Regions from separate parts of the Homo sapiens genome. Here regions 2 and 3 are each linked to region 1. A link means that fine-mapping ties the variant in region 1 to the expression of a gene that starts in the linked region. Tissue or cell type: unexposed skin. Region 1 holds a variant in brackets; each other region holds the start of a gene. All regions are shown on one strand. Distances are from middle to middle.

Evidence for each region. PIP is the estimated chance that this variant, and not a neighbour inherited with it, causes the effect.
Region 2: BNIP3 starts here. The variant in region 1 is fine-mapped to the expression of BNIP3 in unexposed skin (GTEx, PIP above 0.99). The same link has a PIP of 0.9 or more in sun-exposed skin.
Region 3: JAKMIP3 starts here. The variant in region 1 is fine-mapped to the expression of JAKMIP3 in unexposed skin (GTEx, PIP above 0.99). The same link has a PIP of 0.9 or more in sun-exposed skin.

The regions. Positions count from the first base shown.
Region 1 is chr10:132,012,675-132,020,777 of GRCh38, forward strand. No RefSeq gene overlaps it. Among named protein-coding and RNA genes, the nearest start is that of BNIP3, 35 kb to the left of the region's middle. RefSeq lists an enhancer at 6,780-7,451. The variant A/G (reference allele first, on the strand shown) is at 3,541.
Region 2 is chr10:131,976,921-131,985,023 of GRCh38, forward strand. It overlaps BNIP3 (BCL2 interacting protein 3), which reads right to left and starts at 5,003. Exons shown (of 6, transcript NM_004052.4): 1 at 4,841-5,003. The coding sequence starts at 4,886. RefSeq lists an enhancer at 4,182-5,106 and silencers at 4,514-4,743, 4,974-5,273, 5,324-5,513, 5,554-5,673.
Region 3 is chr10:132,062,692-132,070,794 of GRCh38, forward strand. JAKMIP3 (Janus kinase and microtubule interacting protein 3) reads left to right here and starts at 3,255. Exons shown (of 24, transcript NM_001323087.2): 1 at 3,255-3,370. RefSeq lists enhancers at 2,032-2,779, 5,054-5,554.

The sequences.
Region 1 (8,103 bases):
GACTTACAAATTAGTAAAATAGTTTATAACCAATGCTTGATCCCGTATTCCTGGGAAAACAATTAAAGCTTCAGATACATTTGGTCACCTGGTGAGCCATTAAACATTTTATAAAGGGATTTCATTCAGTTGTTATTTTTGATGTATGTGTTCTGGTTGTATAAAATCTTTCCCATGCAAGAGGACTGATGTTATAACAGTAGATTATTTTGTCACAGTATATTTTCACCAGGTTGAAAAAAGGCTTTTTATGGTTCAGATCTTCTGGGAACATCAGAGAAAGACTGTCCTTGCCATCCACACTACAACAAAACTTCAGGACCTTGAACTTTGGGTTTATAATGTCACAACTGAGAAGGGTCCCTCCACACTCTTGGAGCTGTGCACCCGTTGGAACCCTTAAGGTAAAAATAATCAGGGAAATTTCTCCCAAGACGAGGATGGCATCCTTGTTGTGAACAGCTTTTCCCGAGTTCACAGATTAAGACTTCTGTCATGAAACTTCTCTTTGAATACTTTTTCTTGCTTATACCTCTACGAACACTAGAAGTAGAAAAGGGTCTATTATGTGCACTTATGGGTTATACTTTTATTTGTGAAGGAGTTTGCAGCCAGTCTTATACATGGATAACCTTATACTTTGATAGATAAAAGATGAAGGCCCAATGTAGGTAAGAAATTTTACTGGTACGCACGTTGCCTCGTAATCAATCAAAAACAAAACATTGGTTCACTCCTCTGAACCCACATCATGGGTTAAAGAGAACATAGCCAGGAGGTCTTCACTATTCTAAAAAGGCATCATCTGTTGGGTCCTTTTTCCATGATTTAAAATAAAAGAAGCAATGATTAGAAATGTATCCCTCTTGGGAGGCTGAGGCGGGCAGATCATGAGGTCAGGAGTTGGAGACCAGCCTGGTGAAACCCCGTCTCTACTAAAAATACAAGAAATTAGCCAGGCGTGGTGGCGTGTGCCTGTAGTCCCAGCTACTCGGGAGGCTGAGGCACGAGAATCACTTGGACCCTAGAGGTGGAGGTTGCAGTGAGCTGAGATCGCGCCGCTGCACTCCAGCCTGGACAACAGAGCGAGACTCCATCTCAAAAAAAAAAAAAAAAAGGAAAGAAAGAAATGTTTCCCTCATGATAGGCTTTATAGAAGATTCTCCTGTAAAGGCTACAGTTACGCAACAGACTTTAAATTCTCTTGTGAAAGTTATAATAGAACTGGCTGACCAGAGAAATATCTGTGCAGCTGCTGGCACTTGTGGCCTATGGAGAAATACAGCAAATGAAGATTATAGAAATTCAGTGGTAGGAGATGGATGAAGAAATTGCTTAGTCAAGTGAGTGAGCTTTTTATGTAGCTCTTTCTTTGATCTATCTGATTTTAAGAGGTTCAGTTTATGAGAACCCTGGCTAAGGGGCGTACTCCAAACTCTTGGTATTATCCTCCCAGTAGTCATAATAATAGTCTCCCTGGCGCGCTGTGTTCTCTCAGGTTGTAAATGCTGTGTAGCTATCTCTAGAATGTCACATGGTCTCTCTTCAGCTGAAATAGCAGGAGCTAAAATAAATGTGCAACCACGAGGGCCCCGTAACCTATAAATGATGTGCTGAGACTGGAAACCCAAAATGATGGTAACTGAGAGTGGTGTAAAGCCCCTAAGCTTTGGTCACTCTCTCGCCGAAGTGAGAACCTGACCAAAAAGGAGGCATTCTTTAAACAAAATTCTGGGAGGCCATTGTTTTGGACTAAGCTCATGCACTAGGCCCCAACAAACCAAACCAAACCCAAATGGAGTCACTTGTGCTAAGACTTTAAGGAAACACATAGATTCTAGAACAGACCAGGTTTTGTTTTTTTCTCCTGCAAATCTCTATAACGAACATTTCTGACTGCATGGGTATCCACCTCCGAAGTTCCTATGAAATCTTTTAACCAAATTTATTTCCTCTCGCCTAAAGACCATCAAGCCTCAGATGATCACGCAACAAATGTTCCAGCCAGTTCCAGGTGAAGACACCACCCCTGGCTATCAAACAGCTACCCTTCCTCCACTAGACAGAGCAGGGCGAGAGTTCCATGATTCCCAATAGGAAGGGACTACGCTCCAAGTCAGCATGAAGCAGTACAGAAAAAAGACCATTGGTCCCTCTGCCTCCCATAAAGATTTATGGGGATCACATACTGGGGGGATATGAGACAGGAAAATAGGGTCTGCAGGCAGGAAGCATGAGGCCGATTCACACTTCAGCTATAACAGGAAATATCCTCTCCATAGGGCATACACCGAGTAAATGACTTTGTAAATTTACTTCATCCTCTTCATTTACATAGGACGTACCCCAAGTAGAGGGTATTTAAACTCACAAAAACTCTTTAACGGGGCCCTTGAGCCCCTATGCTTAGGCCCGCTCGCACACTGTGGAGTGCACTTTCATTTTCAATAGATCCCTTCATCTCTTCCTTGCTTTGTTTGTAGGTTTTGTCCAATTCTTTGTTCCAGACACCGAGAACCTGGACACCCTCCACCATGAACACCCATGTCAGGGGCATTCAAATCACAGCATCTCTCTCGTGAGTGAGTGTTCGTAATGCTTATTCCCCGGTGCCATAAAGAAATAGCACTTGAACATAAATTTAATTTCCTCAGCAAGGGCATTTTTTTTACTTTCTGCAGAAAGGGTACACTTCCCAGCAGTTTTGCCATGAGAGTACACCGAACAAAGGAGGCAGGGTCATTTATAACCTGACGTGTCCACCCTACGTCTGTGTCCGGTTTCCATTGGCTGGAACGGGACCTCACATTCTGGTTTTGTCCCAGTTGGCTAGCAACTTATAACAGCTCTGTCACCCAGGCTGGAGTGCAATGGCACGATCTCGGCTCACTGCAACCTCCTCCTCCTGGGTTCAAATGATTTTCTTGCCTCAGCTTCCCAAGTAGCTGGGATTACAGGTGCCCGCCACCATGCCCGGCCAATTTTTACATTTTTAGTAGAGACAGGGTTTCACCACATTGGCCAGGCTGGTCCCGAACTCCTGATCTCGTGATCCACCCGCCTCAGCCTCCCAAAGTGCTGGGATTACAGGCCTGAGCCACTGCGCCCGGCTGCAACTTAGAACTTTTTAAAAGAGGCAAAGTCATAGGAGAACAAGGAAAGGAGGAAGTAACTTGTGGAATGCTGAGGAAGGTAAAAACACCTTCAAATAAGGAAGAGGAACAGGCTCTGACCTAATGCTTGCTCAGGCTAGTATAAGCATGCCAGGGCAAATATTTAGGCTAAATTGGGGGAGCTAAGAACTTAAAGTACATTGATTTCTTTATTACAGCTAGCAGATATTTAAGAATGTTAGCACAGGTCTTTGAACAAATTTTTGCCTCTAAGAGAAGTTGCTATTTATTCCTAATTAGATGGGGAGGAAAGTCTTTGAAGAGGAACCTCTACTTTACTTTTTACAGTGAGGGCTGGGAAAGGAGGCTGGGGCTTGCTGGGCTGCAGGGCCGGAAAGTTAGGTATTCCCAGCCTCTGGATGTTTAT[A/G]GTCAAGGGAACAGATTGACAACATTTACTAAACAGATCCAGACATAGGAGTGTCCTGATATCCCGATATCTTGAGAACAGAAGCAGTCCTATTTTGCTTTAAAGATAATATCGATTCTTGCAAAATATAGTAATTAAGAACAGTAACTCTTCATCACAAACCCTCATAGCAGAGCACATCTCCCCATGATCTTTTTTTATCGTGTGTATAAACAAGTATTGTACTGTGGGTGGACACATTCCTCCTCTTACTTTTGGGAACACCCTACTCTGTCTATGGAGTAGCTGTTCCTTCACTTTACTTTTGTCAATGAAAAGAGTCAAACTCTGAAAAATATTTGAAGAGATTTATTCTGACCAAAACATTAGTGACCATGGCCCGTGACACAGCCCTCAGGAGGTCCTGAGAACCTGCGCCCCACGTGGTCGGGGTGCAGCCTGGTTTTATATCTTCTACGGGGCAGGGGGTCATGAGACATCAATCAAATACATTTAAGAAATACATTGGTTGGGTCCAGAAAGGCAGGCAACTCAAAGTGGGGGGCGGGGCTTCCAGGCTACAGGTAAATTTAAACATTTTCTGGTTGACAATTGGTTGAGTTTGTCTAAAGTCCTGGGATCTATAGAAAGGAAATATTCAGGTTAAGATAAAAGACTGTGGAGCCCAAGTTTCTTTTGAAGCCTCATAGTGGCTGCCCTCAGAGACAATAGATGACAAATATTTCCTATTCAGATGCTTAGAAGGTGCTAGACTCTCTGTAACCGAAGAAGTTTTCTCAACAGATTCTTTTTCTCTAAACATTCACAAATGCAAAAACACATTTTGTATATTTGTGCATGAGTGATCTACAGAAGTCCTTGTCTTATTAATGAAAGTTCATGGAGACATGATACCTTTATCACTTACTGTGCACTCACACATCACTGGTTTCAAACATTTCTCACCCGTGTGATGGGGCACTGGGTGCCTCTGAGAACATGCTGATTTTTGGACTGGACATATTCTCCACTCCTCACTTGACTTCATGGTTCCTCGCTCATACAGATGTCTCTGTGACTGAAAACCCAACACTGATATCCAGCAGATTTTCCTCTTATGAGATTCATATTCTCTCTCTCCCTTTCTCTCCATGTCTCTATTTTTCTCTGTCAATGCTATTTATTACTGAATCATACTGAATCCTGCCAACAGTCTCCATCTCACGTTCTGCCAATCTTCTGCCTCAAAGATAATTAGGGGCAAACTCATCCTTGCCCAAGGTGGGAAAACTCTCCAGACTTATACCAGATTTACAGCCTCATATGAACCATGATCAAACATTATTTGTTTTTAGATTATACCTCAAAATGAAAAATGCTTTTTCAAAATAGCTATGGCATTCTATATTCCCACCATTACGCAAAGCAGCATGGAGGCTCCCAAATACATTAAAACAGAAATACCATATGACCAGCGATCCTTCTGGGGCTCCTTCCCTGGGAGGGGGTCCTCGCTTCTGAGCATCCTTCCCTGGGAGACGGTCCCCACTTCTGGGGCTCCTTCCCTGGGAGGGGGTCCTCGCTTCTGAGCATCCTTCCCTGGGAGAGAGTCCCCACTTCTGGGGTTCCTTCCCTGGGAGGGGGTCCTCACTTCTGAGCATCCTTCCCTGGGAGACGGCCCCCACTTCTGGGGTTCCTTCCCTGGGAGGGGGTCCTCGCTTCTGAGCATCCTTCCTTAGGAGAGGGTCCCCACTTCTGGGGCTCCTTCCCTGGGTGGGGGGTCCCCACGTCTGAGCCTCCTTCCCTGGGAGTGTGCTGTACATGGAGCCATCCTGGGACCTCAGAAGCCTGGGCTGGGTTCAGGGGCATGAGGAGCCTGAGGGGCTGAGGGGTGCCCAGGGCTGGGGACCCACAGCGATCTGGGAAGGTGTCTTCCTCTCTGGGGTTTGGTTAACTGTTCAACTCTGACTTTCAGCCACTGCTCAAATTAGCCATTGCCAGTAACAAGGGGAATATTTTGGGCTCCATCTGCTTTTGTTTTATTTCTCTCTCTGTTCAATACTCAAGCAAGGAAAAGGGATGCTGTTCATTGTGGGACTCTTAGAGGTGCTAAACACTTGCAGCTTAAATTGCTGGAGAGGAACTATCTAAAGAGACACCAAAGGCAGGTAAAGTCAGATCTTCAGCATGAGACGTGGACTTGGGCTCTCATCTGTATTTGTGACTAGGCCTCACCTGCTTTTTTTCTTTTTTTTTTTTAATAAACTTTAATTTATTATTTTTGTGTGTGCGTAGGCATGGGGTCTCATCATGTCGCCCGGAGTGATCTTGAACTCCTGGCCTCAACCAATCCTCTCTCTTCAGCCTGGCTCTGGCCTGGGCGCTGGCTCTCTGTGAGGCTGTGGCTGGACCAGGTGCACTGCAAGCAGCTTCCAAGGCTGCCACTGGGAAATGCAGTGGTGCTGGAAGCTTGGAGACTCCAGGAACCACAGGGCCCCAAAGAGGGAGTTACAGCCCTGGCTCAGGGAGCTTCGAGGACTGGGCTCCCTGAAGGGCCACAGCTCTTTTCTCCTTCTCTTCACCTGCAACATGGAGAGCAAGGGGTGTGTTTCAGCCCTGTTTGTGTTACTACTCTTTCAGCTCTGCCATTCAGCAGGTCTTGAGTTCTTGTCCTGTGTCCAGGAAGAATGAGGTATGTGAACAAATGGAGGGTGAGCAAGGTGAAGAGGAGCTTCATTTAGTGACAGAATAGCTCACAGGAGGCCCTGGAGTGAGTAGCTCCTCTCTGTAACTGCTCATCCCAACGTCTGCTCAGCTCTGGCTAAGCCCAGGCTTTTATGGGCCTCAGAGGGGAGGAAGTGCGTACCAATTGGTCCATGGGCGGCCATGGGCAGGCCTGGAAAAGGCACCACAAGTCCCCTCTCTGGTCTGCAGGATTGGCAGCCCTGCCCCTAGCCTTCAGGCCCTCCCTGGCCTAAAGGTGGGCTCTCACCAGGGACCCACCCCCTTCCATCCGGGAGCCTGTCTGCCTCCTGCTGCTGTTCATAGTGTCCAGGCTGTAGGTGCCAAGGGCTGCCTGCAGGCCAGCACAGACCTGCCCTCAGACCCCATCGGCTTCCCTCCCAAGCTCGTCAATGCCCAAAGTCTGGAGGGGGCCAGGCAGCAGGGGGTTGGCATGTCAGCAGTGCTCCACGTGCATGCACACCCAACCGGGCTGTGACAGCACCCGGGCTTGGCCCCAATTTTGCTCTGAGATTGGAGTGAACACTGAAAGCAGGGAGAAGCCAGGCAGTGGGAGCAGGCACTTCTGAGCCTGTGAGGGCAGGGGGATGCCTTCCTGGGCCCCCAAGAGTGCAGGGATGCCTGGGTCCACAGCCACAGTTTGGGCGGCTGCAACTGCGCCTGGAGGGTGGGGGCCGCAGGGCTCCTGCCTTCTCCATGGAGTAGGAGGCCCAGGTCTACAACTGTGACTTGGGTGGCTGCAGCTGAGCCTGGGAGGGCGGGGCTCCTGCCTGCTCCAGTCCCCCTAAGAACACAGGGAGGCCCAGGTCTGCAGCCATGACTTGGGCAGCTGCAGCTGTGCCTGATGGGGGTGGGCAGGGCTCTTGTCTGCTCCTTGTAGTGGCAGGCTCCGGTCTGCAGCCACAACTTGGCTGGCTGTGGCTGCACCTACAGAGCTCCTGCTCAGAAGGGGCAGGGATCAACTCAGAAGGGGCAGGGATCCCACTTGTCCCTGGCTCCCGCCGGCTCTGTGGAGTGTGCAGCCCATATGCAGCCCCAGCCACACCTCCCCACTGTACCCAGCATGATGGCAGCCACCGCTCCAGATGGGCCGCCTCTGCCATCATCGCTATCATCCAGAGTCCACGTTAGGGTCCACTCTTGGTGTTGGACATTCTATGGGTTTCGACGGATGTGTAATGACATGTATCCCCCACGACAGTAACACGCAGAGCACTTTCACTGCCCCAAGTCCTCTATCCTCTGCCTGTTCCTCCCTCCCTCCCTCCCCTGTCCCCTGGCAACCACTCATCTTTTTACTGTCTCCATAGTTTTGCCTCTTCTGGAATGTCAAAGAGTTGGGATCATACAGTGTGTAGCCTTTTAGATTGACTTCTTTCACAGAGTAATGTACATTTAAGGGTCCTTCATGTCTTTTCCTGGCTTGATAGCTCATTTCTTTCTAACCCTGAACCACACTTGATGGGATGAATCACAACTGATGGTTCCACTCACCTGCTGAAGGACATCCCAGCAGCTTCCAAGTTTTGGTGAGTATGAACAAAGTTGCTGTAAACATCCACGCGCAGGTTTTGTGTGGACACGTTTCCAGTTCCTCTGGGTAAAAACCCAGGAGCTCAACCTCCACCTGTGTCTCTTAGGCAGCCCTCTTCTGCCGAGCTCTTCTCTTAGGCAGCCCTCTTCTGCCGAGCTCTTCCTGCTCTTCTCGTCTCCAAGCCTGGCCCCAGTGCCCTGGCTCTTCTCTCTGCCTCCTGAGTCCTCCCAAGCCTGGCCCAGACCTCGGGCTCACACTCTCCTCCAGATGCTGCAGCGGTCATTGCCTAGAGACTCACTGAGCACCTG
Region 2 (8,103 bases), 36 kb before region 1:
AGGTTGTTCTGCCTATGGAGTCACCATCTTTTTACTGTTTTACTTTCTTTAATAAACATGCTTAAGACACTTATTGGCACAGCGGTTCATGCCTGTAATCCCAGCACTTTGGGAGGCCGAGGCGGGCAGATCATCTGAGGTCAGGAGTCAGAGACCAGCCTGACCAACATGGTGAAACCCCGTCTCTACTAAAAATACAAAATTAGCTGGGCGTGGTGGGCGCCTGTAATCCCAGCTACTCGGGAAGCTGAGGCAGAAGAATCCCTTGAACCTGAGAGGGGGAGGTTGCAGTGAGCCGAGATCATGCCACTGCCCCCCAGCCTGGGCAACAATAGCGAAACTCTGTGTCTCAAACAAAAAAAAAAGACACTGCTCAGGAAGCCCCAGGGGTTTAGGTGCTCTGCACCAGGAAGTAGGTAGGGTCAAGACCAAACACATACTGTAATCTATCACACAAGGGGCAGGCTGAAGACAACAGGGAGAGGAAGATGAAGGAGAGACAAGTGTATCTCTGTCATCCTCTGCGCTACTGCAACAGAATCCCACAGACTTAGTGATTTACGAACAGAAACTGATCTCTGTTCTGGAGGCTGGGAAGTCCAAGATCCACGCACCAACATCTGGTGTCGGCTGAGGGCCTTCCTGCCTCATCCCTTCAATGAGGCTACAGAGGGACCCACCTCCCTCCATCCAGCCCCTTAGAGCACTAATCCCATTCACTAGAGAGGAGCCCCTATGGCCGAGCCACCTCTTAAAGGCCCACCTTTTACTACCATCCCACTGGCAACATGGAGGAACACATTCGAACCAAAGCAGTGCTTTTTAAACATCACCCCAGAAAGGACCTAAAAATCCAGGAAACAAGGAAAAAAAACTCACTCCAGATTGTCCATGGCTAATGACTTTGGGCCCAAAAGCTGTATTCCCAGGAATGATTTACTAAGGGACAGGAGTTTTATTATTAACCCACAGCAACCGCGTAGGAAAGGAAGGCACTTCCTGGAGAATGGAGCGTGCTGTGTATCTACTCACGTGTTACAGTTCTCCACTCGGATCGTTCACCTTTTCAAAGAAAGATGGGCTTACAGTAAGGTTGCTTAATAACCTTAGAAAACTTGCTCATAATCACAAGCAGTTTACACTTCAAATCACTGTAGTATAATTAGGCCCCAGACGGAAAGGTGCTGCTGTTGCTGCTGCAAGAAAAGCCCTCCTTCCTAATCTCATTTCGCGTCCCTCTCATGTTCCTCCCCCTCCTCACTCACTTATAATTTACATTGCTAACAAGACACACAGCCAGTAAATCTTACCTCCCTCCTATATCAAGGTAGATGAGATTTTGAAAAGCCTAGACTATAAATATTTATATCACAGTACAAAAAGAAAACTGATAGGTCTGCCTCAGAGACAAAATACAGTCCAACAAGAGTTCTTAATCCATTTCTTATTCTCACTTTGTGTAAAAAAAAAAAAAAAAAATCATCTGACATCCAGCTTTTCTAGGTGCCCAAAGCAGTTCTCCCTCCAGTGACAGACTCCAGGGAATCCCTTCGATTCACTGCCCTCTGTATGTCCCAGGGCAACTCCCTGGGTCCCATTCCTCAACATGGATTCATGGGCCACAGCCACGAGCCCCACGTGGAGTAAACACAGGGCCAAGTTCTCAAGGCCACCCTATGCCCTAACCTGGGGTGACAACCTCAACTCTGGCTATGAAGGGAGAATCACCTGTGGTGTTTTTTCATTGTTCTCCAAAAGCCTAGCCTCAGCCCACTCTGAAAGTGACTATTTGGGATGCTGGGGTGGAATCCAGGCAAATAGATTGAAAAAGCTCTGGGATAAATGTCAGAACAGAGGGAGGCAGCATCCCAGAAAAAAAACCTGAAGCAGAGGAGCTGTGAACCCCCGAGGGAACTAGCACCCCAAAACCATACAAAGGGCTTCTTCCCCAGGGGAGGTGGGCTCTAAGAAATTGCTGTTTTACCTTTAAAGCTTCTCAGGTTAGTGGGGAGAGAACAAAAGAGACCCGCCTGACAAAAGATTTCAAGTATCAAGTCAGCTGGGTAGGTAAATCAGGTCCCTGGCTTCCAACGGGGCTCGTTTCCCTCCACCTTCCTGTTGCCTCCAGGACCTCTGGCCTCCTCTCCTCCAGGACCCTCCAGGGCCTATTGCACGCAGCCTCAGGCATCTGGGCTCCAGGTATCCCACTGCTGCCTCATGCAGAGACCTTGGCTTCTCCTTAAGTGTTGTTGCCAGCCTTATCTTTCACTCCACCTCTAGAACCTCATTGTGACCATCTATGAAATGCAAGTCTTGGACGAGAATCTCGATGTCTGCAACCCCTTCAGGTCTCAAAGCACACAATGCTACAACTCCACTCCAAAATAAGTAGAAAACATCTTTTCCCCTCATACAACTTTGCCCATGGTGAGTTGCCTCTGACAAGAGAGAGAACCATCTGCCAGTTGCAGACACAGCAGTGGGTGAAGAGGTGAGGGCTTGGATTATTAAACACGGCCCTCCAGAGTAAATGGGCATGCACTTTACTGAACTGATGCCCTCCTGGTGAAGACAGTGGGTCCTTCAAGGAAGTGATGCCCCCGCCACCGTGACACGGTCTCGTCACAGAATCCTACCTCTCCTGCATGTTAGCAGTGACATGTCTAGGAGAAAAGGGCCAAGTTCATGGCTACAGTGAGCTATAATGATTGTGCTACTGCACTCCAGCCTGGGGGAGTAAGACTGGGCTTGTAAAAAAAAGGAAAAGGACAAATACGAGCATCCTGCGAGTCAACAACTTTAGCTAGAATGATCAAGAGATAGAAAGGAACAGAATCAGCCCATTTTGCCATTAACTCTTTAGGAAAAGCAGTTGGCCCCAGAGGGTACACTCAGAGGAGAGAGTGCTTGCTGCTTCCATCCGTGGGTCTGGCTGCAAGGCTCCCATTGTTCTCTGTTCCGAGGTCAACAAGGGGCAGTGAAATCGGACAGGCAGAGGTGAGCGCTGCCTGAGCCACCGCTCCGTCCCGGATTTGCAGGCAGCTGGAGCCCGCGGGACCGGCCAACCCCGCCCACGCCGAGCCCACAGTGGCCCCGTCCTGCCGCGCGGACACTCAGGGCGGCCCAAGGAATCGCCTACATGGGATCCACCCCGCGGGTAACTATCTTTTTATAGAATAAACAAAACAGAAAAACAAAAATCTCGTAACTCCGGCGCTGGCCGCCTTGCACTGCCAATGACTCAGCAGCCTGTGTAAGTTACATATTGGAGAGAGGACCGAGCCCCCCGGAGCCCCCTCCACCTCCCAGCGCCCAGATCCCAGCCGGACAGTGAAACGCACAATGTCAGGAGTAACGCGGCTTCACAACCGGAAAATGGGTGATTTTATGGCAAAGAGTTTATAAAAACATCCCTTGGACTTTATTTTATGACAAAAGATAGGAAAACACCTCTTAATCTATTTCAAAATAGTAATTAGCCAATGTTTAAATTTCAAGAGGAAAAATCCGAATTACAGGATTTTAAAGAATATGGTTTTAGGCCAGGCGCGCCTGGTGGCTCAGGCCTATAATCCCAGCACTTTGGGAGGCCGAGGCGGGAGGATCGCTTGAGCCCAGTTCAGACCAGCCTGGGCAACACAGTGAGACCCCGTCTCTTAAAAAAAAAAAAAGGTAAAAAAAAAAAGCTTGTAGTGTTCATATGTATATATATATATTATTCAATATATTACGGTAACTAAGTCCTGCCTAGTAAAATCTTTTTTTTTGTAATAAAATTAGCAACTCACTAAATTTATGTGAATATATGGTTTTAAAAACTCTCAATGAAGATTAAAAGTTCACTGTCAGAGGTTTCAGCAGTCCTTTCCCAAGCTTATTTACATGCTAATTTTGCTTAGTAAACTCTGGCTTCAAAGAACACAAAGGTCAGCTGCCACCAGGTCCCTCCTCCGAGGCTTTGGCCCTAGGGACCCTGGGAAGGCGGCTTCAGTGCCCGCTTCCCTGAGCAAAGGCTCGTCTGGACTCTGACGCGGACCCACCGGGTGGGGTGGGTCTCCACGCCACCCGGCTGTGCGTGGGGCAAGTCCTGCACCCCGGGCCTGCGTTTCCCGCTGCGTGAACGGATGGTCTTGCGAATCTAGCCAAGGGCACACAGCGAGCCTCTACTCGGGCATTAGGCAGGCTGTAACGACTGAGTGCTGCACGGGCAGCGTCCTTTTGCTTGTGTTTTCTTAACCCGTAAGTCATTTAAAGCTTTGTTTTGGAACGACCCTCTAGTGAAATTGGAACATGCCCATTTAATGCCATATTTTAAAAACGCTGTAACCCCCTCCCATCTCCGCGTTCACCCTTGAGGAAATCCTAACAGTCACCATGGATATAAACATTAATAACAAAATTAAAGCTCATAACAGGCCACTTGCCACGCCTTGGTGTTTGGTCATTAAAACCAATACTGGTCTGAACTACAGACCGCGGAGGGCAACGTGGACTTTGAGGCTGTTCGGTCCAACTGCGAGACGCAGATTCACCTCCAGGTGGAATTCTAGCTCGCGCGGAGCTGGAGAATCGGGGCTTTCCCGTGCGGTCCGACCCGGGTCCAAGCCAACCCCCGCCCGAGTGGCGAGGCCGCGAACCCCGGGCAGTACGCGGGGTCCCCACGCCCCGGGCTCCGCATGCCCGCAGGAGGGGTGGGTACGGAAGGGGAGGATGGCGCAGCCTCGCCCGGCCCGCGATGCCCCCTAGGCCTCCCCGGCAACCTCCCCTTGGCGCCCTCTTGGCCTTCCCCAGGCTTCCCCCCCGCGCCCCCTCGGCTCCCGCGCCGCCTCCTCCGCCTCACCCTGCAGGCTCTCCTCCTGCATCCCGGGCGCTCCGTTCTGCGACATGGCGCCAGAGGGCAACTGCGGCGATCGGAGTCCGCGCCGGGCTGCGGGATGTGCTTCAGCTGCGGGCGGTGGGAAAGCGGAGGTCGGAGCGCCGCGGCCCAGCTGCGCTCCCGGACTGAGCGGAGCCCCGCAGCCCGGCCGGAGGAACTCACAGGGCAGGGCGGGGCCGGGCGGATCTGCGGCCGCGTCGCCCATTGGCCGCGACTTGGGGCCTGCGCGTGCGCAGGGGCGTGGGGTGCGTGTGGCACGTGCGGCGCGTGCGCGGGGCGGGTCCTGCGGTGGGCGAGGGGCAGAGGCCTGCGGTGCGCGGGACGCGGGCGGGGAGAGGGGCGGGGCGAGGGGCGCGCAGGCGCGAGGGCGGCAGCGACCGCCTGAGGTGAGCCGGCCCGGGCTGGACGCCGCGGGCCGCGTGACGAGTGGGCTGCGCGGTCGCCGCCGCGGCGGGCGGTGGGCCGGGTTCTCCTTTGAAGGGGCGGTGGGACCGGCGGACTCTCTGGGCACTGGCTACCACGGAGACGCCGCTACGCTTCGGGGCGGGGCCCGTCTTTCCATCCTGCTAGTGGGGAAACTGAGGCGCGGGGCTGGCGGCGTCCGTGCGGGGGGCGTGAGGACGTGCAGGGAAGCGGCCGCTGCGGCTCCGAGACGGCCCGTGGGGTCGGGACCTGCGCCCGGGGCGGGAGCTGCGAGCGGTGGGCCGGAGCTGAGCGTCTCGGGACGGGACCGCGTCCCCGGGTCTTTGCCCGCCCCGCCGGGGCGCCCCTGCGTGAACAGCGGGGCCCGTTGTGTCCGGGGCGTCCGCCCGCAGGAAGAAGCGGAGGCTCGAGCAGAGTCGAAAGAGTCTGCCCGAGGGAGGCGCGGACCCCAGGGGCCCGGGAGAGGCGCGCCGTCCGCCTCTGCGGCAAGGGGCCTCCGGGGTGCAAACGCGGTGTGGGGCGGGCGTCCCCGGGGTGGGACGCCCCGTCCACGGGGCGGAGTGGCGCTTGGTCGGGCCGGGTGGGTGCCCGGCTTCCGTGGGAGCCAGCCTGGCGTGGGGGCCTCGCAGCCTCGGGACTGGGAGGCACTTTTCAGAGGAAAGTCGCTTTCTCATTTCCCGCTTTTGATCAAAAGTCTTTCTTCTTGAAAGCATTGTTGATCCAAATCCAAGTGTCAAGGTGCGCCCCAGAAACGCTGCTTCCCAGACAGTCGTGTCTGGTCTTGCGGGAAAGGAGGAGGCGTCCCGCCAAGGAACCAGGCGCTCAGAAGCTGAACCGGGGTCACAGAGCCGCGAAGCCAGACCTCAGTCGCTGCGTGCATTTCATCCCTGCTCTTGCCTGTTGAATCGTCTCTAGTCTTTGGAGTGCCATGATTTTAGTTTTCTCAGGAGTAACAAACATCCAGAGGCCAGTGTGGGGCGCATGTCTTTCATCTCAGCACTTTGGGAGGCCGAGGCAGGAGGATCGCTGGAGCCCAGGAGTTGGAGACCAGTCTGGGCAATATGGCGAAACGCTTTCTCTCCCCTAAAAAAATACAAAAAACTTAGCTGGGTATGGTGGCACCTGCTGTGGGAGGATTCCTTGAGCCCAGGAGGTAGGGGCTACAGTGAGCCATGATCAGGCCACTACCCTCCAGCCTGGGCAACAGTGTGAGACCCTGTCTCAAAAAAAAAAAAAAAAAAACCGCCAGAGATACATAGCATAGCATTAATAATTTCGATAGTAGAACTGTAGTGCTGGCCAGGCAGTGGTTCTTGTGTGTAATCCCAGCATTTGGGGAGCCCAAGGCAGGAGGGTCACTTGAGCCTGATAGTTCAAGACCAACCTGGCAACACAGAAAGACTCCATCTCTATTAAAACAAAAATGTTACCAAGTACGGTGCACATAAGGATTACAATGAAAAAGAGAATGTGTATGCCAGAATGAAAAACGGAACCTATTCGAGGGAGTCAACTAAAAGTATTACGAAGAAAATCAAATGGAGAATTGTTCAGAATAGTGTAGCCTAGTGGCTTGTACTTTTTCCCATATGAGTTTCTACTTCGTGGAAAGGGTTTATGCACATCAAGAGGTATTTGCCACCATACATAGACTTGCTTGCTCAGCTAATAATCGAAAGCAATGCAGTCGTCCAGTGCAGCCTTAGCCAGTGAGTCAGTAGCTTTTTGTTGGGCTGTGATGGAGGCAGCAGTTTCATCAGCAATATTTCCTGATAGGCCAGATATGCTCGCAGTCATCCCAAGTAAAAGCAAACAAATACTGACTCTAGGTCCACTGGAATACTAAAGAAGGCACTACATAAATGAGTCACAGTGTCTCACTTCCAGCTGCCGAAAGAGGATGGGGCTTTGGTACTACCAGATGTCTGGGGATCACAGTGTTGATGACGGTTCTCAAATCTTGTACAGAATACCAGCTCTTCCCATTCGGCTTCCTTACAAGAAGGATTGGAGTATTACATGCTGGCGCAAGGAATAATTAGACCCCTTTTAATATAGTCTTTTGTTACGGATCTTATTCCTTCATTTGCTTCAGGCCTTAGAGGATATTGTCTGATATTGGGTAAAGGATTAATCAGGTTTACTTCCACTTTAATGAAAGTGGCTGAATATATTTTACTAATGTCGGTGGAAGACTCTGACCATAAGTGGTCTGACAAAGCTTGCCCTAAGCCATCCGTGTCATTAGTGCCAGTTGAAAAAAAAGTTGTTTGATCTGTATTTTTATAATTTCAGTAATTTCTCATTCTGTAGTTTTTCCATTTGCTCCTTCCATTCTAAACCTAAATCCATTTCTTCCTTTTGGGAGAAGGAAAGCATGCATTGTGACGTTCCAACACAAAATGTCTGCCTAAGAGATGTCTGAGAGGTGGGGGAATGAAGAAAAGAATGAGGGCCCTGGGATTCTAAGGGCTTGGACTTGTATCCAGTGATAGGCTGATGAGATAACCCTACCGTTTGTACAGTTCCATTACTCCAAGGAAGGAGACAACTTAAAGTGGACGAAAAGAGTGGCACCAGTGTCTTTGAGGGCATGTGTCTGTTCTTCATTTATGGCAATGTCCATTTCTCCTAAGGCATTAGTAGAAATAGGAACACCTCCCTTCGATCATCAGAGCAATCCTGTTCATCATGTGGGATCCTGGTTTTTCACTGGTCCTGCTGTTAAATTTTCTACAATCTTTTTTGAAATGGCCAGGCTTTTTACAGTAGAAGCAAACAGCCCTTTTGTCATTAGAAGGAGG
Region 3 (8,103 bases), 50 kb after region 1:
TACAGAAGCCATGCATGGGAATAAAAAAACAGGTCTCAGTCATGAGACAGAGGGACCGAGGATGGGAGCCCCTGGGGGCAGTCCTGGCAGGATTCCAGGAGGAGGTGCCTTTGCATGACGGGAGCTGGGGTGGTGGGTCCAACAGCTGTGTGCAGGGCCTGGAAGGCGCAGGCCTGTCTGGGAAGGGAGGAGAAAAGGAAGGCAGCCATATTTTTGCTTGGATAATAACTGGTGAATGGCTGTGTCAGGACCTGCAATATAATAGAAGGAAGAGTGAAGTTTGGGGCAGGGCAGGTTATTTTTGGACCCGCCGGGTCTGAGAGGCCCCCGAGGAATTGTATGGAGACACCGGGCCAGCAGGACGGGTGGGTCTGGGAATCAGCGATGGAGCAGCAGAGCCCTGGATTTGGGTGTGATCATGGGAGTGGCCAAGCTCCCCCAGAAAGGACAGGTGACAACTGCCCGTGGGTGGGAAAGGGAAGCCAGGGACGGGCTGTGGGATCAGACTTGGGCCTCGTGGTGCCTGGTGAGGCAGCCACGTGAGACATAGAGACCCACTGGAGGTCGTGGTTTTCCCAGACCCTGTGACACAAGTGAGGCCTGCTGTTTAAGCCTCTTTTCCTCAGAACACGTCCTGGGGGTGCTGGCTCCATCCCAGGTGCTGGGGCTCGGTTTCTGGGATCTGGAAGAATTAGGGTGGAGCTGGCAATGTGGCTGGGAGGCTCAAAGCTCAGCTTCTTGAGGACTAGCAAGGATGGTTTTCTTATTCATCTATTCCTGTGTTTTCCAAATTCTCTACAATGAGCACATTTCACTTTTACAACTAGAAAAATGGATGCTATTTAAAGAGCAGGCTGCTCCCTAAGCTGGAACGCCGGGTGTCAGCCCGGCCCAGCACCCACCTGCTCTCCGCCTCAGCCAGCGTGGGGATTTGGAAGGGACAGTGTCTCCCTCTGGGCTCCGGGAGAGAACGGACCGTCTGCAAGGGGCACGTTTACTGCAGGAATCAAAAGCACATACACGCATGTGCATCTGTTTGGAAATGAAAGTAGATGTTTTTTCTGATTCTAAAAATATTGTTTCCAATTCTACAAAAAAAATACATACAATTCAGAAAGATACAAAACAAAATATCAAGTCACCTGAGATCCTATCACCTGGAGCTATGGCCACTTTAGAGCTTGGTATCTACGCTTTCAGGCTTTGTTTTTCTTGAGTGCAACACACACAGGCACGCGTTTTTAAAAACAAATAATGTGATCATACTATACACACTTTTTTAAACAGAAATGTGAGCATACGATACCAGCTTTTTTATGGCTGACTTTAAAAAACTTAAACAATAGGTTGTTTACGTCTTTCTGTTAAGCTTGGACTGGGGACATTTTTAAATGGCCCCATTGTATTTGGACGTATGTGCGTTTCCCATCGCTTGTTAAATCACTCCTCTGTTGGACGTCTAGGATGTTTCCAATTATTCCCTGTTATATTATGGACAACACTGCCGTAAGCATCCCTGAGTGAGTTATATTTAAAGGCTTACAACAGCGCCTGGCACGGGGTAGGTGCTATAAAGTATTTGGACTAAAGTCAAATCTGTGCACACACCATCCTTGTGTTGTTTCCCCAGGATCAATTCCAGCAGGAGGACAGCTGGGCTGAGGGGGCACTGCCCTCGTCAGGAAGGTTGTCCCCGTGGCCTGCCTCCGACTGAGGAGGAGCCACCCTCGGGGTCGGGCGTGGACCCCGAGCCGCCGGCATGGGAACCCTCTTTGCTTCAGGGCAACACGGGAGGGGTCTGGATCTCCGACCCACCGTTCCGGGTCTGAATCCAGCTCCGGGACCTGACAGGGATGTGATTGTGGGGCAGCCGCATGGCCTCTTGGCGCTCCAGCCTCCTCCCCTGTGACATAGAGGCAGCGATGGTTGGTAACCAGGGACAGCGGGCGGCTCCGTCACACGAGTCAGGACATGTGACCCTTGGAGGGTTGTTGCATCACCCTGGACGTTTGGCCAGACGTGTGGCCATGGTTTTAATCAGGACAATTTTTTGCTTGCTCTAACTTATGAGGGTGGCCAGATCTAGACAGACAGCAGAAGTAACCCGAAGTCCTGGCCTGCCCTGTGCCATCCTCTGACATGTTATCATCGGCGTTCACTCTGTGGGCTCCTCTCGGGGTGATGCCTGCCGGTCTCAGCTTTGGGGTGAAGTGACATTTGGCCTTGACTAGAAGAGGCAGGTTGTGGGGGGCAGGCAGGGTGCAGGCGAGGGAACTGAGGCAGAGCGGGCTGGGAGCAGGGGGGATGTAGGGTCCTCCCAGGCTGACCCCCAGAACCTGGGCGTGCAGGCCTGCTCTGGGGTCCAGGCTCCGATGCAGTCTCAGCGCAGGCCCTGGTGGCCGGAGACAGGGCAGGGCAGGAGCTTCAGGCCACCCGCACCGGCAGCCCTCAAGGCTGCCTTGATGGAATCGGACCCAGATGGACTCTAAGCGGCCTCCTGCTTGGAAACCCTGTCAGACCCTGCGTTTTCTACAGAGCGGCTGTCACACGGCTTTTCCGGACGGTGATTATGGACTGCGTGTGGGATTGGCGGGCCAGGTGAGCTCTCGTGCTTGCCCTTCACACAGGAATGCTGCTGGTCTCCTGTGTCTGGTTCCCGTCTGCATTTTCAGTCCTCAGTGTTGAGTGTGTGCAAATCCCTTCTATCACCTGACATTTAAAATAGATACCCTCAGAGTGGAAGTTCGTTCCTATTATTGACCCGCTCACTCTGCAATCTTGAAGGGGGTTCTCCAAGCAGGAGGGAAAGCCGGCCAGAACGCGGTCCTGGAGCAGCCAGGAAGCCGAGGGGGCGGTGAGGGCAGGGATGGCCCAGCCGTGGCCTCTGCCGCTCGCTGGTTTTCACGTGAGACTGCCGCCGGGCCAACCCGGAGCCCAGGCCGCCTCTGCATCTGAATAGAGCCAAGCTGCCTTCAGGATCTCACCTGCGTGGCTGTGCCTTCGGCCGCCCGGCCGTGCAGAGCTGCGGGCCCCTTCCCCACCGAGAAGCGTCTGTTCGCGCCCTGCAGGGAGCTGGGCTGGGGGCTCAGAGGATGCCTCTGTGCTTGGCCTTAAGGTGCACAGGGAGAGCTTGGGCGATCCTGGCTCAAGGGCTCTGCTTGGAAACAGCTCGGGGAAATGGTTCCTCCCCCTGGATGTAGTCACAGCGTGGTAAATTCCATCTGAAAAATAAAAGCCGAGCTCTTTGCTGAGTCATAGAAGCTCGGAGCTGATTTGCGCAAAAGCCGGACTGAGTCTTGGACGAGCCGGGAAAGATTCTCACAGTCGAGCAGAGCGATGGGAGAGAGGAGCAGACAGCGAGCTTTGGAATGTGAGTGTTTATTTTCTGACTGCTGCAGAGGCTTTGTTGGTTTCGGTTTGGCTGTCTCTGCACAGGCTCTTTCCACCTGGTGCTCTTCTGTATTTAGTGCGCACACGTATGTGGCTGGAAAGTTGACAGTTTGGGGTCTGTCCTCTGAGGGGTGCAGGGACGATCACAGAGGAAGATGCTTCATTTATCCGTTTTCACGTTCATGCTCATGCACACATTTGGAGGAGGCTTGGGCCTGCGTTCCCAGTAGTAGGTTTCTCCTTTAAAGCATGGGTGTGTGTTCCATCCCATATGTAAAGCGGATGCTTGTTGGCACGGCAGCCGTGGTGGGGTGGGTTGGGGAAGCCAGGCTGAGTCTGTGTATTGCCGGCTGTGGTGAGAATCCCACGGACATAGCACCAGAGAGCTGTCTGCACAGCCCGGGAGGCCTGCGGCGTCCGGGTGCTTCCTGGCTCCGTGGGGTAACCGGCTGGACTTTTTTGCTGCTTGTTTTCCTTTTGAAGAATAGGTCATCTTTATGGCTTGAGGCCTCACCACCTACCTGCGCATTGATTGGATGGTGTCTTCTCTTTAAAACTTAATCAAGAATCACACATCACTCATTGATATAACTTCTTATGCAAGGAACTCCAGGTTTTTGGGAAACAACAGCTTATTAACTTACTAATTCACTCTTTGAGGTTATTGCACCATGCCTCAGTTTCTACAGTTGTTCAAAGAAAATCCACTGCTGATTGGGACTGGCAGGGCTGCGGTGGAAAGGGTGTCACAGGTAACTTGGCAGTACGTTGTTGTACTGATGCTTATTGAGATGTCAGTGAGACTGGCCGGGAAACCATGCAGGCACCCTAGGGATGTAAATACTTGCTGCTGCCGTTGATTTTGTTGTTCACAGTGTGGGAGAACCAGTCACAAAACGGTTTTCTCATTCCAAGCCAAGCCTGGAGTAGTAGACTTGAGAGTCCTCTCAGTGGATCGGGCCTTTGAGCAGGTCCGTGGTAAAACGCCACCTCAGTTCCCGAGAAGAGCAGCAGAAGAGGAAAGTGAGCCGGGCCGAGGAAGGACCCTCAGTTTACATTCACAGCATTACCGGCAAAAGGCTGGCGTTTGGATGAGGTTCCCTAAGAGTCCCACAGAGTAGATCAATATGATCAATATGTGCTTGGAGAAGACAAGACGCCTGGCACATTCACATTCCTTCTCCAAGGCTGAGGGTGGGGGGAGGGCATTGGCATTCCTGCTATTCCCGAGGTTTCCCTGCCTCTCCTGTGAGTTGAGGGCACCCCTGTGAAACCTAAGGGCACGCTGTGGCAGAGAACATGCACGGAGCTCCTGCTTCTCTCCCGACAGCCCTGGGAAGGCCTTACTACTTTAGGTCCTAACTAACAATATCCAAACGACCAGGTGGTGGTCCCACAGCAAGGGAGCTGTCAGTCAGAGCTGTGCCTCTGCCCCCGTATTTTGGATCGAGCTCCTCCAAGAGAAGTAAGTGTCCTATACATGTTCTTGGAAGGTTGATCTTGACTGTGGACTTCCGTGTGGACTGTGGGCTTCCGTGTGTACTGTGGGCTTCCGTGTGGACTCTGGGCTTCCGTGTGGACTGGACTGTGGGCTTCCATGTGGACTGTGGGCTTCCGTGTGGACTGTGGGCTTCCGTGTGGACTCTGGGCTTCCATGTGGACTGGACTGTGGGCTTCCGTGTGGACTCTGGGCTTCCGTGTGGACTGTGGGCTTCCGTGTGGACTGTGGGCTTCCGTGTGGACTGGACTGTGGGCTTCTGTGTGGACTGTGGGCTTACGTGTGGACTGTGGGCTTCCGTGTGGACTGGACTGTGGGCTTCTGTGTGGACTCTGGGCTTCTGTGTGGACTGTGGGCTTCCGTGTGGACTCTGGGTTTCTGTGTGGTCTGGACTGTGAGCTTCCGTGTGGACTGTGGGCTTCTGTGTGGACTGGACTATGGGCTTCCGTGTGGACTGTGGGCTTCCGTGTGGACTGTGGGCTTCCGTGTGGACTGTGGGTTTCTGTGTGGACTGTGGGTTTCTGTGTGGTCTGGACTGTGGGCTTCCGTGTGGACTGGACTGTGGGTTTCTGTGTGGACTGTGGGTTTCTGCGTGGTCTGGACTGTGGGCTTCCATGTGGACTGTGGGCTTCCGTGTGCACTGTGGCTTCCGTGTGGACTGTGGGCTTCTGTAAACTGAATTCCATTCAGGACCAATGCCATATCTTTTTATTTTTCCTTGACTCCTGAGTTTCCAGACAGGCAAGCTAGGATGTGGCTGGATGGTGGTGTTAATTTTCCATTTGGACCCTGAAACGGCCCTCTTTAGTACGGGGATTGAATAAGTTCAGGACACTAGCCACTGAGATGACTCTTTTTGAAAGAGCCTATGTTGGCCTCCTAGGCTTCTTCCATGAATCTCTTGGGCAAGTGTTTCTTATCCATGAACCTCTTGGGCAGGTGTTTCTTATCTCAATATAGCCCTGTTGGTCTGGCACCCCAAGCTGGGCTTTGAGCGATGTGAGGTAGACGTGCTTTGGGAGCCGGAGACTGGAGGTGTCTCCTGTCCTGCACCTTAGCCCCAGGAGCTGCCTGGGCCTGCTTTCTTTGCAGACGTCTTATATTTATCAAACCTGTGCTGCAGGCAAGGGCCATGCTTACTTTCCTTTGGGGTCCCTCTGGAAGGCTCTCAGGAGCTGAGTTCTTGATTGCCTTGGGTTTTTGACCCCAGGACATGACATCAGGAATGTCCTGTGGTTGCCAGTTTCCAAGCAAGCACAGCTGGCAGGGGCATCATGGGAAACCCTCTCCTTGGCACAGAGAATTGGTCTCCAGAAAAACCGGGCCTCAAAGTGAAGCCGGAATTCAAACCTAGGGAAAGTGACTCCGGCCAGCTCAGGATGAAGGATGTGACTGGATCAGGAGGATTTGCAGACCTTACTGGCCTTAGTGCTCGGCCTGCGGCTGAGTTCGAGGGGAGCGCCTTTAGCTGGACTGGTCCAATGTGTTTAATTGGGTAAGGAGGAATCCTACCCAGGCGCCATTCTTCCTGGGCACGGAGCTTATTAAAACTTTCCCCAGCTGCTGCTCTTCCCAGACATCCACCTGCCTGGTGGGTGGTTGACCCAGGACTACTTTGACTTTGAAGGACCCCAGGTCTTCCTGCCTGAGGAGGACTCTGAGCACCCAGCCAGGGGTGGGAGGCCAGGGGAGGGGTCTGGAGGCCTCGGTTTTTCTTCTGAAGGGACACTGGGTCTGTGTTACACCCCCAAGGACACGTTTTCCCAGGTCCCCACTGACCTGTTTCGTGTTAAGCTGAGATCCAGTACTATCCTGATGGTGGTGGGGTGGGTCTGAGCAGGAAGGGGCCTGGAATCCATCCCATCTTCACCAGGGACCCCCCAGACAACCTTCTCAGGGGGCTCCTGGGTGTTTTGGTGATGAGCTCCGATGGGGAGGAGTTAGGACTTGGGCTGAAGCTCTGCTGTTTGAAGCTGTCTCACATGTAGGTCTGGCATCCCCCCCTGCGTGCAGGTCTCTGTGGTCAACCTCCTGTTGTGTCCAGCGGCCATGTCCATTTCAGAGTTTCATTAAAGAGCGCAATTGGCAGGTGCATAGCACCTGATAGCCTGCAGCATGGCTCTGGTCTCAGAGTGGGAAGAAGAGGAAACCATGGACAGAAGGACCTTCCAGTGACATTTAGCAAAAAGAAGCAAAGTGTGAAAGTGAGGTGGTGATGTTGGGTTGGGAAGGTGGGGGCTTCCTGAGCCCGCCCTTGCTGCTTATCCATTCCACCAATGTTCACTGGTACCAGCACCCTGTGTGTGGGCACTGATGGCATAGGGCACAATGGGAGCACAGACGGGGCTCGGTCCCCAGTAGAGTGTGACCCACATGGGGAGTTCTGCAGCCTACCCTGTACCTTAGAGAGTGACACGGGGCTGGCAGGTGGCCGGTGGCATCAGGAGCGGTGAGAGGTGCGGCTGCTGATGTACCACCCTGTGGGGGCTTCGGGCACCAACTCCCAGTGAGTGTCTCCACCTGATCTACCTCTGTCTAAACAGCACTGTCTTCCATTTTTTTTTTTAGTTGCATTTTTATTTTTTGAGACAGAGTTTCACTCTTGTTGCCCAGGCTGGGGTGCAGTGGCGCGTTCTTGGCTTACTGCAACCTCTGCCTCCTTGGTTCAAGAAATTCTCCTACCTCAGCCTCCCGAGTAGCTGGAATTACAGGTGTCCGCCACCACACCCGGCTAAATTTTGTATTTTTAGTAGAGATGGGGTTTCGCCATGTTGGTCAGGCTGGTCTTGAACTCCTGATCTCAGGTGATCCGCCTGCCTCAGCCTCCCAAAGTGCAGGGATTACAGGCGTGAGCCACCGCGCCCGACCTGTCCTCTGTCCTCCCTTTAACAGCACTTCTTACCCTCTGCTGCTTTTTGATGTCTTCAGATCCTTAATCCCATGCGTGATCTTTGCTGTGTGAAGCAGTGGAGCTCCTAGAAGGCCTTTTGACCCTCTTCCTTTTATGTAGATGCGTTTGTCTACTCATTCCTGAAGTCCAAAGGGGAGGGGAGTCCAGCTTCCGAAACAGACCTTGGTACCTTCCTTTTCAGTTTTCACAGATGCTTGTGTACTTTAAGAAGAGCTTAGTCTTTATGACTTTTAAAAGAGCCCCCAAAGGCCCTATGATCTGGGCATGGTGGCACATGTCATAGTTTTGGGGCAGCTGCAGTGCT